4 linked regions of the Homo sapiens genome follow. The protein of the gene in region 4 purifies or fractionates together with the protein of the main gene of each other region. This does not show direct contact. Each region holds a gene or a part of one and is shown on either strand. Other genes may lie near its edges.

Region 1 (4,182 bases), on a different chromosome or scaffold from region 4:
AAATCATTTGCCAGTTCTAAAGTAGTAATAATAAATACTCCAAGAACTAAAAGTCCCCCTGGTAGCATTCTGGATACCTAAAAATAGAAATATATTATTAGCTAACAAATTGGCATTATATGCAATCCTTTCTGTTTGAGAAACTGTCTGCTTAGCATGTCCTTAGCTTTTCACCTTAAAACTACTTTATAAATAAAACTATCTGATAACAACATCCTTTAGCTACATCAATAAATAAATCCTTTTCTCAGGAGATCAAAGACTGAAATATTTTTTCAATGGCGTCCCACCATCAGCTAAATAAAATGAAGTTTTATTTTAGATTGATATTTCAGACTTTCTAGGATCTGGTCAATGATGTTTATACCCTCATTTGACACTACTTTTCCTCAAGTAATTCAAATATTTGTCAAAAACTACTTGAAAAGTAGTGTCAAATGAGGCTATAAACTGTTTTCCATACACATCCTAGGCTTTCTAACTATGTGTCTTTACTCAGGGTGTTCCCTAGGCCGAAACTGACTTTTTCTTATACTTCTGCATGTCTCAACCCTACTGGATACTTCAAAGGCAGCTTGAGGAAGCTGCCTTCTCTGATCTTTTCATCTCTGAACTCCGACAGGGCTTTGGTGTAGTTTTCCCATGGATTTTATCACATAGTCTTATATCATAGTTATCTGTGAACCCTACTAGTTGGTCAGGGAGCTCCTTAAGGGAATAAGTAATTCTACCTCTGTATCCCTATTTTTAGCAGCATACTAGATCTGGAATTTGAACAGAGGGAGTCTGACTTGAAAATCCATTATTTTCTATTGCATAGATTAACCTCAAATTTTTAAGCCCACTTACTGATACTGGGCATCTTTGCTATATCTAATTTTACCTTAAAATAATATTGATTAAAAATCCTAGTACATCTTTCTGCATTCATAGAATTATTTGTTTAGGACAAATCCCTTGAGGTGGATAACTGGTTTAAGAAGTTATACATATTTTTAAGGTTTTTGATACATACTACCATGATATCTCCATATCTGTATTTCCCTTCACATGATTGTGGCTAGTTCTTAATACCACATGGATTTTTTTCTATCATCTACACTCAGAGATTAGAGTGTTTTGGTTAGCTTTTGATTACTTAATGTACAAGCAATCAATCAGAGTACAGTCTTAGAAAATTAGGTACCATGCTCTAATCCTTAATCTACTTGCACTATGTCTTTCGGTGTTTTCCTCTGATTTAATAAATTCTATTTACTATAGTAGCACAATTCTGACAAATAAAGTTTTCATATTTAGCATAAGGAGCCTGCATATCTTTTCAAAATCACCAACACAAAAAAGTAACCATTTTTTAGGAGATGGAGGTGAGAGCAAGAAAGGGGAAAAAGTAAAATTAACCTTTTCTTTCTAGAGGTAAAAGGTTAAGCTAATTTACTATATAAATTCATTAATATTCTGTGTGTGTGTGTGTGTGTGTGTGTGTGTGTGTCATATACAATTTTATGAGAGACCAAAAGCAAAATTAGAGTAGAAAGTTATTTACAAACCATTGGGAATTTAACTTTACATTACTTAATATTTTCTTTAGAAGATAGTTGCCATGTTTGTCCCCTTAAACACCATGTTGAAATGTGAACCCAAGTGGGGCCTAATGGAAGGTGTTTGGGTCATGGGGCAGATCCCTCATTAATGGCTTGGTTCCATCCTCAGAGCAGTGAATGAGTTCTCGCTATATTTGTTCCTACGAGAGCTGGTTGTTAAAAAAAAAAGCCTAGCACCTCCCAACCCCTTGCTTCCTCTCTGGCCCAGTGATCTTTACACACCAGCTCCAATCTGCCTTCTGACATGAACAGAAGCAGCCTGAGGCTTTGACCAGATGCTCAATCTTGCAGCCAGCAGAATCATGAGCCAAACAGGCCTTTTTTTCTTTATAAATTACTCAGTCTTAGGTATTCCTTAATAGCCACCCAAACAGACTAAAACAATAATAATTAAATACTGGATTTCTTCGTTTTGTTTTGTTGAGACAGAGTCTCGCTTTGTCGCCCAGTCTGGAGTGCAATGGTGTGATCTTGGCTCATTGCAACCTCCGCCTCCCAGGTTCAAGCAATTCTCCTGCCTCAGCCTCCCAAGTAGCTGGGATTACAGGCACCTGCCACCACACCTGGCTAGTTTTTCATATTTTTACTAGAGACGGGGTTTCACCATGTTGGCCAGGCTGGTCTTGAACTCCTGACCTCAGGTGATCCACCCACCTTGGCCTCCCAAAGTGCTGGGATTACAGGCAAGATTTTATTTTTTTTTTAAATATAACTACACACTGCTCCATAATCAAACACATACACAGACACAAATATATGTCCATATATATATATATATATATCTACATACACAGAAACACGTTTGAGTTTAAAAGATTTAAAGATTTAAAGTTGATTGGAAAAGGAAATAAATCTTTTATTTATTAAAGAAAATTCTTTTTCTTAAAACAAACAAACAAAAACGCAGAATGTGCAAGTCTGTCACATAGGTTTACGTGTGCCATGGTGGCTTGCTGCACCTATTGACCTGTCCTCTAAGTTCCCTCCCCTCACCCCCAACCCCAGAAAAGGAAATAATTCTATTTTTACCTTATTCTAACATTATTTATTTGATGATATATAATTCATTCAATAAATACTTGTAAGTGAATTAATTTAGTCATTATTCCCACTCACCCATCCCAAATCTGTTTCTTCCTCGTGTAATGCCAACAGTATCCTCCTAGACACCCAGACTAAAAATCTCAGTCATCTTTAGCTACTTTCTCCCTATGTCTCTTCTCTCTACTCATTCACTAAATCTTCTTGATTCTAGCTCTTTTTTGAAATAAAACTTAAACATATAAACAAAAAAATAAGATAACCTGGCAGGCATGTTCTGTGGCCCATTCTTCATCCAAGTTATCCAACTTAGCTTTGGGATGTTTGAGGTTCTCACTTTGCTCCTCTTTGGGTGGCGTTCTAGTGGCAAGAATCACATAATCCTTTTGTGACGAACACTTCAACAACAAATTAAAAAGCTTGTTAGAGTGATATCTGATTCCTCAATCTAATTAGAGTGATACCTAAATTCCTTAGCTTTTATGACATGCAAAAACTGAGTAATATTTGTAACAGGTTAAATCATTAATACCCACATTATAATGGAAGCTAAAGGGAAGCTAATTTTCAAGGATGGCCTTACAATCTTTCCCTCACATGTTGTTTATCTTTTAATGTATTTAATATCAGCTTCTTATTTATTTGGACAACTCAAATGTAAATCATGGAGTGGTCCCTAAAAATGGTTTACTGGATGAGTGAATGAATTACATTAACTAAAAAGTAATATGCTTATTCAGTTTTCTAGTTATATTTGTTTTATAAGTTATAAATGAACAGATCGGAAAATATTAGTAAAATGAAACAACAAGTGACCTTTTGTATCTTATTTTAATTGAAATGATGACAGTAGGGAACTTCCACATACATTTCCACAGAATAACAAAGGGGATTTGGGACACAATTTAAAGTGATACAGATTCTATGTTCCTCAAGTTTTTTGTTTTGTTTTGTTTTTTGTTCTTTGTGTGTGTGTGTATTTATTTATTTATTTAGAGACAGGGTCTTGCTCTAATGCCCAGGCTGGAGTGCAGTGGTGTGATCATAGCTCACTGCAACCTTGCACTCCTGGGCTCAAGCAATCCTCCCCCCAAGTAGTCTCCCAAGTAGCTAGGACTACAGGCTCAAACAATCAGCCATAATGCCTGGCTTTTTTTTTTTTTTTTTTTTACTTTTTTGTAGAGACAGAGTCTTGCTATGTTGCCCAGGCTAGGTCAAACTCTGACCTTCAAGCAATCCTCCCACCTCGGCCTCCCAAAGCATTGGGATTACAGGCATGAGCCACCACACCCAATCTGTTCTTCAGCTGTAATATCAGTTAAGTAGTAACCAAAGTTGGGAGATCTAAAAATAAATGTAGGGGAACATTCAATAGCTCAGTTTCACTACAGTGAAAGTTTCCTATAAAAAAAGAGTGAAAATAACACTGCTAATGCAAGTTAGCATTGTATCTTCCCCACACATGACCTGAAACTCTGATCATTAGTATCATCTTGGGATAGAAAATAAGAGTAACTATTCCTACAGGTTATTTTCA
Region 2 (4,182 bases), on a different chromosome or scaffold from region 4:
GTAGTGACACGTATCTGTAGCCCTTGCTACTTGGGAGGCTGAGGTGGGAGGATTAATTGAGCCCAGGAGTTCCAGGTTACAGTAAGTTATGATTGTGCCACTGCAGTACAGCCAGGATGACAGAGAAAGACCCTGTATCAAATACATAGATGATAGATACATACATATATACATATATATGTGCATACATACATACGAAAAGAAAGATTTGAGAGAAGCACAAATTACCAGTGTCAGGACTGAAAGAGGGGGCATCACCATAGACACTACAGATATTCACAGGATTATAGGGAAATATTGTAAACAACATTATGCCCAGAAATTGGACAACATAGATAAAATAGATAAACTCTTTGAAAGATACAAACCAAAGCTTACTCAAGAAGAAATAGATAACCTAAATAGTCCAATAGCAAGTAAAGAAATTGAATTCATAGTTTGGGACCTTTCTGCAAGGAAAAATCTAGGCCCAGATAGCTTCATGGGCAAATGCTATCAAACCTTTAAGGAAGAAATATTATTAATTCTACACAAACTTCCAGAAAATAGAGAAGAGGGAACACTTCCCAAATGCACTTACCTGCATTTTCTGAGGCTCATTAATACCAAAAAACACTGCAAGAAAACTATAGACCATTTTCCTTCATGAACTTAGAGGGACAAATGAACAAAATATCAGCAAAGTGTTATGCTGGTAAACTGGCTCTCCAAAAAAAAAAAAAAAAAAAAAAAATCTTGATTTGACTATTCCCTGATTTCCGTGATGTAGCAACTCCCACTGTTGCCAGTTGAAAGCTACCAACGTGAAGTCACTGAACATGGAGTTAGGAAGAGATGTGTAGAATCCGTTCTTGTGAGCTGATACAGCCCAATTTCAGCACATCATGACTCATACATCCTTAATCCTGAGAATGCAAGACTGGTTCAACATTTGAAAGTCAATGAATGTAATTTGCCATAAGAACAGACTAAAGAAAAAGACAAAAAAACTGTGAGCCAAAGAAAGTACTTAGTTCTACATTTAGCAAAAATACACCCACCCAAACGGATGCTCTGACAATACAGTCCACTTCAGGCCCCACTGTGATCTGTAATTGTCATCTTTTTCTCTTCATTGCTCTGATTGTTGCTGTTTCCTCACAAACGCCTCTTCCCATGGCCACTGCTTGCTCACTCAATATTGTTGAATAGATGCTGCTCCTGTCCGGTCATTCTTTGGGAGGAGGGAGAGAACCTCCCAGCTCAGGCCAAAACATCTACTGAGGTATATAAATCCATATAATTGGCTCATAAGTTTCACACTCTTTCCCCCATGACAAAGAGATATGTTTGTCCATTTTTCCTTCCACTTCACACTTAGGTGCTCTGTTTGTGACAACTTGTCTCTATTATGTTTACTACAGTGGGGTCATAGGATACGGGAATGAAGACCTAATTCTCTACTCTTTTGGAGGCACCTTTGGATCAAGAATCCTGTCCTTTTAAAAAATCTTTGTCCCAACTCCTAACCCATTGCTTCGCACATAGATTCAATGCGTGTTTTAATAAAAGGATGAATGAAAGAATTCTGAGGAGTCCTCATTCTCATAGGCTTTCAATTCAAGACTTTAGTGTGAGACTCAAATACTTAGCATGGAAATGGCTATTGCTTGAAAAGAATGACAGTCCCAACTCCCATGTAGTGAGCTTTAGCATCTCTCTGCTCATTACAAAGACATGTATTTTTAAAAAGTTGGGGAGAGTAGGAAGATATCAATTAAAACTCCCCAGAGGACTTCTTTTGTGAGATCTGGGCTACTCATAACCTGAAAAAGTATTTGAGGCAGGAGAAGTGTTCAGTGATGAATGATGATGACAGCTATGAGATTAGCTTTAACACAGTGTATAGTGTATTAGGCTTTTGTGTATGTATTTTTTGTCATACATTTCAGTGTTGGCTCTTTTAAAAAATCAAGATATGTAACACAAAATCATTTATGTCCAATTTGGCAGGGGGACCTGGAGCACAATTTTACCCATTTAAGTTACTATGTATCTTTGAATTTTGATATATTATTGATTATATTTACGATGTATTTAATGCCTAATTCTCAATCATCTGCTTTACTGCATGGTTTCAATGAGGTACATATTGTAGTGCAACAGAAGTGGAGAGGTAGTTCTCTGAGTCCTGTGATAACATGAATTAATACCTGAAATTTCAAAGATTCCAACTGGGCTGGGAAGAGCATGTGTTTAGCTAATTAAGAAGGCCAGACTGGGTGGGATTAATCACCCCAAAGGAGGTCAGGCAGAGAGGCTTGCTCAGTCACATGAACAAATCTTCTGAGTTTCCTGATGTGCTTATAAGCTTTAAAAAAAGAAAGAACCTTTTATTTAGGATAATGAACATTGCCATTTTTCCTCCAAATCCAGATTTTTGGTTATCAAAAACCTCCTCAGTTCCAGTTATCCTCCCAGCTAAGCACTTCTCTTTGCAACCTGTAGTCATTGGTGAGCTGATATCTGTGTCGTGATCAAGTTTGGTTTCAGTGTCCCAAATACCACAGTGTTCATCATTTCACACTAAATCAGATTTGCGATTATTCTGATATTACTAATGGAAGTTTTTCTTCATCAGGGATGGATGAATGAGATTTACAACTATGATCCAGAAACCTACCATGCGACTTTGACACATTCAGTCTTTGTTCGACTTGAGGGTGGAACCTTAAGACTTTCAAAGCCCAATAAAAATATATCCAGGAGGGCCAGCTACAATGAACCCAAGCCAGAGGTCACCTACATCAGCCAGAAAATCTATGACCTCTCAGACAGCAAGGTGAGCCTGAGCAATTTTGGAAGGATAGCTTAGATGAATGAAAAGCATATGGCATCTTGGATGCTTAACTGCATTTTTTTATACCCTAAAAAGGTTTGTGGTCGTTGAACAGTATACCTTAGGGGACAGTACCTCTCACACTTTAAAGTTTATGCACATCACCTGGGCATCTTGTTAAATGCAGATTCTGATTCAGTAGCTGTGGGCAGGGCCTCGGGCCTGCATTTTTATGAGCTCCCAGATGATACTCAGGCTGCTGGTCCACAGACCACAACTTGAGGAACAAGTGTTGTGCACTCAGAATTCTGCCTTTAAAAGCTAATTATTTCAGTCAAACAAAAAGCTGTGTGGCTATGTGTGGTGATTCTGCGGTACTTAACTATTGAAGTCTTTGTACATGTGCAAATGATAGATATGCAAAATAACTACATTTTGATTAAGTATTATATACTTCTATTTTTGTGAGAAATGTAAATTATGTATTCCACAAAGCTATTGTTTCTCTGTTCTTACAGTTCATCTGAATGATCTTTAGATTTCTCCAATGTGAGAGAAGTACTTAAAATAGTTTTTATATAAGTTTATTCTTAACTTGAGTTTGATACTCAAGGTTGACTTTAGCTTCCCATCTAGATTTTAGCTATCTTTTTTTTTCTTCCAACTTAAGTTTGGTCCAAGGTCATTAAATTCAGTTGATAGCCAAACATAGTTGATGATAAGCAGCTAAACATTATTATTGTGCTACTGCCACCTGAAAATTACGGATATTTATAACTCTCGCAAAATTATTAAATGCCTACTTTGTGGAATGATTTTGAAGAATAACAAGACACTTCTGAAAATTCCAGTTTCTGTAGTCATGTTATGAACAAGTGTTGAAAGTTATTTCATATTCATCATTTTAGTCAAAAAGTCTATAAGGTTTGCACTTTGTGCTATGCATAATATTAATGCATAGTGTAGCCAATCTTTAATATATAAATCATCATTTTTCTTTCTCTGTAGATTTATCTTGTACCTAAAACTTTGGCTCGAAAGCGAATCTGGAATAAAAAGTACCCCATTTGTATCGAGCTTGGTCAGCAAGATGACTTTATGTCTAAAGCTCAGACTGATAAGGAGACTTCAGAAGAGAAGCCGCCAGCTGAGGGAAGTGAGGACCCTAAGAAGCCACCCCGCCCTCAGGAGGGAACAAGATCTAGCCAGCGAGATCAGATACTCTATCTCTTTGGGAGAACTGGCCGAGAAAAAGAGGAATGGTTTAGGAGATTTATTCTGGCATCTAAGCTAAAGTCGGAAATCAAGAAGTCATCGGGTGTCTCTGGAGGTAAACCAGGTAATGATGTTTGTGCTAAATGCTT
Region 3 (4,182 bases), on a different chromosome or scaffold from region 4:
CCATTAAAGTGTTTTACAGATATTATTTAAGCAAATTTCAAAAGGCCAAAGTAAAATAATGAGTAGGCAAGAATCACTCCTTTTTATAAACAGAAAAACTAGAACTGAAAATGTCAGGTAACTTGTTCAAAGGTAATAATCAAATAATTTAGGTAGCCAACTCAACTCTAGAATTACTTGACTATTTTCCCATTTCTCAATAACTTTAACCCATAAGAAAGATTATATTTTATGAGAATGAGAGAAAAAGCTTATTTTCAAGCCGTATCATCTAGTATTTTACCTCTGCAGTCAACAGCATATTGTTGACTAATTCCATGTAAGCTTTCATTTCTGCTTTTTGGACTTCCTCCAGCCCATCACTAAGAGAATGGCCCTAAAGGGAATTTAAAAAAATTTAAAAGAACATCATATTAAATATACAAAAACTTTCAGTTATCTCACTAACAAATAACGTAACATGCAACTATACAATGAATTAAACGTCCAAAATGCCCCCTAAAAATTATTTTATATAAAAGCATAAATAATACTCTGCTATCACTACAAAATATTAGTATGTACTTACTTGTCATTATACAAATGTATCTTTCAATAGAGAAAATTACACTATCAACTACTTCACAAAAGAAGAAAACAGAATGGTCAGCAAACCTTGTTTAAGAGATTAACCTTATTTAGAAATAAAGGAAATGCCAAAAGACTGACATGTGCTGTTTATAAAGTGGTCAAAGATGAAAAAAATACGTTTGTAAAGATATGGGGGGAGAAACCCACTTATTTTAAAATTCTAATACTCTATAGTTACTAGGAGATACATAAAATGATATAACCTTTAGTTCAATCTGGCAATCTATTACAAGATTTAAAAAGTACATAACCTATGACATCCTAATACCACTCTCAGGAATTTATCCTAAGGTACCAATACCAACCTTAGGAATTTATACAAAGATGTATATATAAGAAAATTTATCTTAGTACTCTATAAAAACAAAAAATTGGCCATGACCTAAAAGCCCAACAATAAACTTGAGTAAATAAAATTCTAATTTATCCAATACAGGGGGAGGGTGTTGAAGAAAAAAAAAATAATATATATATATATTTTGGAGATATATATATATCTCCAATACAGCAGAATACAACAATGTGAAAGGATGATATATACCTACAGCTATTAATATGGAAGAATTTCCAAACATATTTATGATTTTAAAAGGTATGTTGCAAAATAATACACACTAGTATGATCTAGGTTTTTCTATATATTCAAAAAGTCTGGAATGATTTTTCAGAAACACTAATGGGAGTTGTTCCTTAATAACTATTAAAATCTAAACTGAATAAATGAAAAGCAGAATCATTCAAATGGATAAATACATTCAACTTCAAACAAATCCTGTATCTCCCTTTTCAAAGGTCAGCCAGACACTTCAAAACCTAATAGTTTTTCATTTATGACCACAGTTGTAGTAAGCATAAGTTAGAAAATTATCTACCATTTTGTAAAGATCAAACCATCTCTTTAGACTAGATATTAAAATTACATACCTTTAATAAATTTGACATTAATAGAGGAAAAAAAGCTACCTCTTTTGCCATTATATCATGAAAAAATACTAACTTACACTTCAGAAATATTTTCCAGTAGTTTGCATTGGCATTTTATAAAACTAGGTTGAAATCAATGTAAATGTTAAGACACATTAAAGAATGATGAATGACTTGGTAACTGATCAAATACATTTAATATCTTTTTATTACCTTGGCTTTAACAAATTGGACTATTGGACCAAGTTCTGATACTACTTGATTTCCCACATGAATAAAAGGTACTTTACCTGTTGAGAGAAAAAAAAAGTATTTATAAAAATACTTCCAGTATGTTAAAGTTTGTGATAATTAAAAAAAATTAACACAAAACTCAGGTATTTATAAATAGGGATTTCATAAAACTGTAACTTTTGAAAATTTTTGTCAGATGTGTATATTAAATTCTGTAAGTTTTTAAACTGATTACTAACCAACTTTAGAAAAAAAGAACAGGTAAATTCATTTCTAGAGTTCTCACTTAGATATAATAACAGATCACATAACATTCTCTTTTCAGAGCCAACACAAACATATCACCATATAGCAGCAAACACTAATTATCCAAATTACATGAACCAAGCCAGGACACTGGTACATGACCACTGATATATTTCAAAGAAATGTAAGCTTTCTTTTCAGAGTACAGTGAATCAATCTATATTGTAAACTACATTTAAAAAACCTTTTTACATCTTTTAAGTCTTTGATACCCATTGAGATCAACATTTTAAGCAAGTAATTGTATATCAATAAATCTCTTTAACTCAAAATAGCAAGAATTAAAAGAATTAACAATCTTTGAAGGCATGCTAGTTGGTGAGTTGTAATACAGAGTATGTTCCCAACATGTGGGAAAAAATAATAGTATGTTTATAAAAACTAGCTTCTATAGATAAATGTCACATTAAAAAAGAAATATTTCACTTTAACAAATACTAATACTTGGAATTATTAGAGATGAGAGAACAAAATAATCTCCAAATAGCAAGAAGGGTCTACTCCAAATGCTAAAGAATGAAACCTGCTGTCACACCTAGTTCAAATAGAGTTCACACTAACAGCAGGCTTCTTCCTGTTCCTTTTCAATAGATTCACTCCTCTCTGGCTCCGTCAGCCTGGGGGTAATGGATGAAGTACAGAGGCCTAACAAAAGCTTCAACTGCATCCATAGGACAACATGCATTACAAAGAAAAGGCAGGCCTTTTGGAACACAACAACTCAATAGATGTATTGAGAAGATATTTCCCTGTTGCCAATTCTGCATTCCTTCCTTCTACTGCTTTATAAATCTTGCAAAAAAAAATTTTTTTATCTGGTTAAGCATTAGGCCACATTGTTTTCTTAACTCGGGATAAAATCTTTGTAACTACTATACTACCAGAATTATTACAGGTCCCCTGAGATCAAATGATCTGAGAATGAAAACTATTTAGTACCTAGACAAACAGTATTTGGGGGTATAATATTTTTAGAGCAAAGCATATTCCTTGTTTTTAATGACCAGTTTCAGGTTCTTGGAAAAAAGGGTTTGTATTTTTTTTCTTTTCTTAAAAATACATTGAGCGTTGTCAATTCTGAAGCAAAAAGAAGTGTGGATAGTCAACTGAGTATTAATCTTATATATCTCTAAATATAAAGAGATATATAAAAACAAACACAACAAATTAGAAGTGAATAATGTTTTCTGTCACTAGCCTGCTTAATGAAAATGGAGCCAATGTTATATCCTTATTATTGCAGGTATCAGGCAAAAACACAGTAAGACAGTTATTTTCTGGTGCGAATCAAAGGTCATATAAGAAAACTGAGGGCTTTGTTTACCGTCTTAGACAGAATAATCACTTTTAAAATTTTTATTCTAAAGAAAGCAAGAATATGTTGCCAAACAAGTTGGCAGATTCAAAGAATGCAAGAAATAGGACCTTGGATGTCATCTAATCCGGCTACCTTATATTACAGATGAAGTCACTGAGGCTCAGAGAAGTGAAATTTCTCAAGGAAATAGTTAATATGTGACAAAGTCACAGAAGGATTAGTTAAAGATTTCCTAACTCTTTAGGAAATAAGAGTTTAAGTCAACTGGTCTTCTGACTAGTCCATGCTCTCTGCTTTAAAAATCTACCGCAAGATCAAAGAAGCAAATACAATAAAAAACATTTCCCTATCACCTCAAATCATTAAATGAAAGAGAATACCAATCTGAGATATGATAAAGTTTAAATATCTTAGTAGAAAGTGCCATTTTCATCTACCTATAGGAGACTCCTATGAAAGAATGTATATTTTTGTATGTCTCTAGAATATTTATGTTTGTCTTTCGCGCAATCTAATAAAAAGAAAATAGGTATCTACCTAAATGACACTAAGTATAGTAATTTTAGGAAACAGGTAGATAAACTATATTGATATCTCACTTGCCAAAGATCTGAACTTTAGCATTAGATTACTAACCTTCTAACCTTTTTACATAAATATACAAACTGTTTGTATGACTACATAGAGGAAAAGGATGGACAAAACACAACATAACTTATTTCACCAGAACTCTGTAGTTCCTAAAATCTACGTATAAAACCAACACAAAA
Region 4 (4,182 bases):
GCCCAAATCTCACAGCCATCACCCAGGATCTCTGCCCCATATTTCCCTGGAAAATGTCCTAAGTCAAAACAACAACAACAACAACAACTTCATCTTTAGAAATAGGGTGCCTTCACAAATATGGGTAAGCCAACAGTTCATCGAATACTATAGGGAAAGAGAGAGAGAACGGGGATGAGACAGCAAAAACATTAAGACTTGTTCTCAGCATTGCTCTCCTCTCACTGGGCAGTGGCTGAAAACACCAGAAAAGTTGCATTAATAAAACTGCATATAGTCTAACACTGCACAGAGTGCTTTGATACAAGTATCCTCTTGCTACTTCATCTTTTCAATACATCTTTGCAAGGTTTGTTTTCAAAAAGACATTACAAGTTGGCAGGCTTCTGCTTATAAAAATCAATGAAATACTTTCCCTTCAACTCTATGAAACCTGCCATATACCTGAGATTTATTCTTCTCAAATAAATCAAACATAGGCAACGTAACACTCTGGAGTCAACACAGAACATGCCAGGGTGAGTTCAGGCAATGAAAGAACCACTTTTCTGCAAATACATGGTAGAATTGAAGACTGTTTGTAGCTGTCGATAATTTGTAAAAACATTTCCAATGTTCTTTGAACAAAAGATTTTGATTCAGCCAAGATTACAGAAAGGAATCATGACAAAGTCCTAAGTGTACCTTTGTGTGTATTTCATCTGCTCAGCTTTTGCAGGTGACTGTGGTGGTGGTTGCCTGGATATGGAATTCCTTTGCCCTCAAATCTTCACATGCATGAAGTGCAATAAAGAATAAAATGCTGTGTTTATGTCGCACCACTTCTAAGAGGTTTAAAGCGCCGTACGAATGTTACCACATGAATCCCCACAACACCCCTGTGAGGTAGGTAGGTGGAGAGTATTGTCATCCCCACTTTACAGGTGGGAGAAATGAGGCACCCAATAGTTAATAAGAGATTTGCTCAAAATCACACAGCTAGTCACTGGCAGGGCTTAGAATAAAATGTATACTGATTAGCACCTAGCACAGTGCTTTGCACATAGTAGGTGTTCGTTTAATATCTGTGGATTTTATTTGACTTATGTCTCAACATACAATATACACACATAAAGTACAAGCAGCCACCGTAAAACATTTTTCTGATGATATCTCTCATTACTTCAAATCCTGGTGGAGGAAGGAGGTTCAAGAATCCATCTCACAATTAAGACCTCAGGGTTGAAGAGGATCATCATAAAAACTATCAGCTGACAACCAGCTCTTACACCTGCTCTACCACACAATATTATTAATAGTTTTCTAATGAAAACAAAAATGGATTTCAGGAACCATGCTGACATTATTTTTTGCCTGTTTGTTTTCAATGGAGTCATCTGAATGGTTCTGTGTTTTGTTTGTACAAAAAAGAAATAAGGCTGCTATAGTCCAGTTAGCATGTGAAAACTCTGCCAAGCACGAAGATCTCCTCCCAGCTCGGATGGATTGCTACCTGGGAAAATGGACCGACCCAGGGAGTGGCAGGTCCCAAGGAAGAGGGTCAGTGAGGCTGGACGTCACTTGCACTGTTCGTGGTCTGTATAGTCATCCATGTCCACATCCGAATCAAAGAGTGAGTGTCCAGTAAAATCTGTGTCTGGGGTTCTGGAAAAACTGTTTTCTGCTCCCTCATCTTCAAAGGTCTCTGTCCTTGAGTAAAAGCTAAAATCCAGCAGCGGGGTGTGGGTTTTGCTGCCTTCGCTGCTCTCCTCAGACTCATAGATGGTATTGTCATCATCGTGGTGCCACTCTGGCCAAAATTTCCTCCTTATCCTCTCACAGTACATGGCAAGGTTGATCAGCTCACCTGCAGTGTGGTAAGGAAAGCAAGGATTAGTTCTCAAAGGCAGCAGTCTACCACTTCTATGGTCTGTGTTGCCCCAAAACTCCAATGTTGAAATCCTGACTCCCAATGTGATGGTCTAAGGAGGTGGGGCCTTTAAGAGGTGGTTCGTTCATGAGGCCCAAGCCCTCATTCGTGGTACTAGTACCTCATAACAGAGGCCTGAGAGAGCTGCCTTCCCCCTTTTACCATGTGAGGACACAGCAAGACAGCACTGTGTCCAGGAAGCAGGAAGTGGTCCCTCCCCCAGGCAGGCCCTCGCCAGATCCTGAATGGGCCAGAGTCGTGATCCTGCATTTCCCACCATGATCCTGCATTTCCCAGACTTTTCCAGACTCCACAACTGTGAGAAATACATTCCTCTTGTTTACCAGCAAACAAGTTTATGGCATTTTGCAACAGCGGCCCAAACTATGACATCCAGCCACTAGGCTTTCTGGGAAACTGGAATAACGGGGAAGGTAAACATTAACAGTATTTTTCCATAGAGATACTGTGAAAATATTTAGGTTTTTATGCACATAATAAAAACGGTGAGTGAGAAAAGTTACATTCAGTGAGTGTGCTGAATGAAATGAAGAAGTGAGTCCGATGATGATGAGAAGTGGCAAGGTAGTTTATCCAAAATGGCAGATAAACTACCATCATTTGGCTTTAGGAAGCATTTTATTATTTTATGTTTACATATCAAGAGAGCTAATGCTGTGATTGGTTCATATATAAATTAATTTATATTCCATAAAAATACGTCAAACTGTTGGTTGCATTAAGTCAGCCAGAAGTAATCATTTACTCCACAAATTTTCGCAGTGTTGCTGTGGGCTGAGTACCATGCCAAGCAGCTGAAAAAAGTTATGTTAGGACATAAACCTTTCCCCCCAAAAAATCCATAAAATGGATAACTCAGAATTGTCTTTATGGATAAGTGTGCCTGCAAACACACTTAGTATAAGATATTTTTAAATTTTTACATGAAATTGAACAGCGGTACTCAGGATCCGGGTCCCACTCGGTCACTAGATTACTTCTTTTTTATGTGAATCAAAAGAACTCTTGTGTTAAGTCACTATTACTGTCTAGGCATTTGTCTGAAACATGCCACTCTACCTGGCCTTCATTTCCTAATTCCAAATGAAAAAGAAAGAGGGTGAGTTTCTCCCTGTGATCCAGCAGATGGCAACATTGCTTATAAATATATGATTTGCTACTATCTCTTATAGGACATTATTACTCTAAGAATGTCTTTGGATTTGAGTTATATAAACATTCACTTATTGTGTAAACAATCCATGTTTTAGTGCAGAAAATTAGAAAAAACAGATAAGCAAAAAATAAAAGCATTACCAATAATCGCATTCCCCATAACATTTTCATTTATGTTCTTCCAGAAAGGTACATATTTACATATACATTTACATATATTTACATGTGCTATATAGGATTTACTATATATTCTTTTTCCTATCCTATGTTTTTCCACTTAACAACGTATAATAAAAATCTTTGAATGTCACACTCTGATCACAGTGATAAGTGCACACTATGTTATATGGCTGTACCATAGCTTCAGTTTGTCTTTATGAATCCCCTATCACAGGTCGTTTAGGTTGTTTCCATATTAATGGTTCTGTTGATTATAGTCTGTCACTACTCTATCTTATTTTTCTGTTAAGGAAAATAACATATTCTCATTTTGGAAAATTAGAATTAGTCTGTATAGACAAACTGTACAAATACATAAAGAAGAAAACAAAAAGTACCCATGATTTCATCGATCCAAGATAATCACAATTAACATTTTGGTGTAACTTCTTTCAGTATTTTTTCTATTTACCTATTGCCATTATTATTACATATTATCTCCTGTAACATTATTGTAAACATTTTCTCATGTTAAAATTTTTCAAAACTTGATTGCTGTTTTACTTACATCCCCTGCAAAACATAACAAAGCAAATCCCCCTGCTTCATGGATCCCATGGACATGTACTGGCTCCAGGTCACCATTTCCAGTCTTCTCAAATTATAACAGCTCAACCCCCACTATGTAAAAATCTATTCTCTTCTAGAAGATATCTGTGCACATGCTCAGGAGCCAGAAACTGAGAAGTCAACACCATTGCTCCTTTTGAGGAGATGCAGCATGGAAAACCTTCACTTACTTTCTCCCTTATGGGGACAGTCATGAAACGCCTCACCAGGTATTGCTGCCAATCCCAGGGGACCAAGAATTGAATAAAGATGTGAGGGCAGCAGCAAGAGAAAAAAAAAATATCTAATTGGGGAGGTAAAGAGACATC

Evidence for each region. Proteins that work in one complex are often made in the same cells at the same time.
Region 1: the proteins of FAXC (region 4) and ODR4 purify together in Homo sapiens (co-immunoprecipitation; 2 studies listed by BioGRID and IntAct, with this or other methods). This does not show direct contact.
Region 2: the proteins of FAXC (region 4) and TEX2 purify together in Homo sapiens (co-immunoprecipitation; 2 studies listed by BioGRID and IntAct, with this or other methods). This does not show direct contact.
Region 3: the proteins of FAXC (region 4) and MTX2 purify together in Homo sapiens (co-immunoprecipitation; 2 studies listed by BioGRID and IntAct, with this or other methods). This does not show direct contact.

The regions. Positions count from the first base shown.
Region 1 is NC_000001.11:186,381,883-186,386,064, reverse strand, and holds part of ODR4 (protein odr-4 homolog), read right to left. Parts: intron 3,044-4,182; coding exon 2,909-3,043; intron 78-2,908; coding exon 1-77. UniProt on the Homo sapiens protein: May play a role in the trafficking of a subset of G-protein coupled receptors.
Region 2 is NC_000017.11:64,193,534-64,197,715, reverse strand, and holds part of TEX2 (testis-expressed protein 2), read left to right. Parts: intron 1-2,620; coding exon 2,621-2,821; intron 2,822-3,826; coding exon 3,827-4,157; intron 4,158-4,182. UniProt on the Homo sapiens protein: During endoplasmic reticulum (ER) stress or when cellular ceramide levels increase, may induce contacts between the ER and medial-Golgi complex to facilitate non-vesicular transport of ceramides from the ER to the Golgi complex where they are converted to complex sphingolipids, preventing toxic ceramide accumulation.
Region 3 is NC_000002.12:176,324,487-176,328,668, reverse strand, and holds part of MTX2 (metaxin-2), read right to left. Parts: intron 1,845-4,182; coding exon 1,768-1,844; intron 377-1,767; coding exon 284-376; intron 1-283. UniProt on the Homo sapiens protein: Involved in transport of proteins into the mitochondrion.
Region 4 is NC_000006.12:99,279,608-99,283,789, forward strand, and holds part of FAXC (failed axon connections homolog), read right to left. Parts: intron 1,847-4,182; coding exon 1,557-1,846; 3' UTR 1-1,556. UniProt on the Homo sapiens protein: May play a role in axonal development.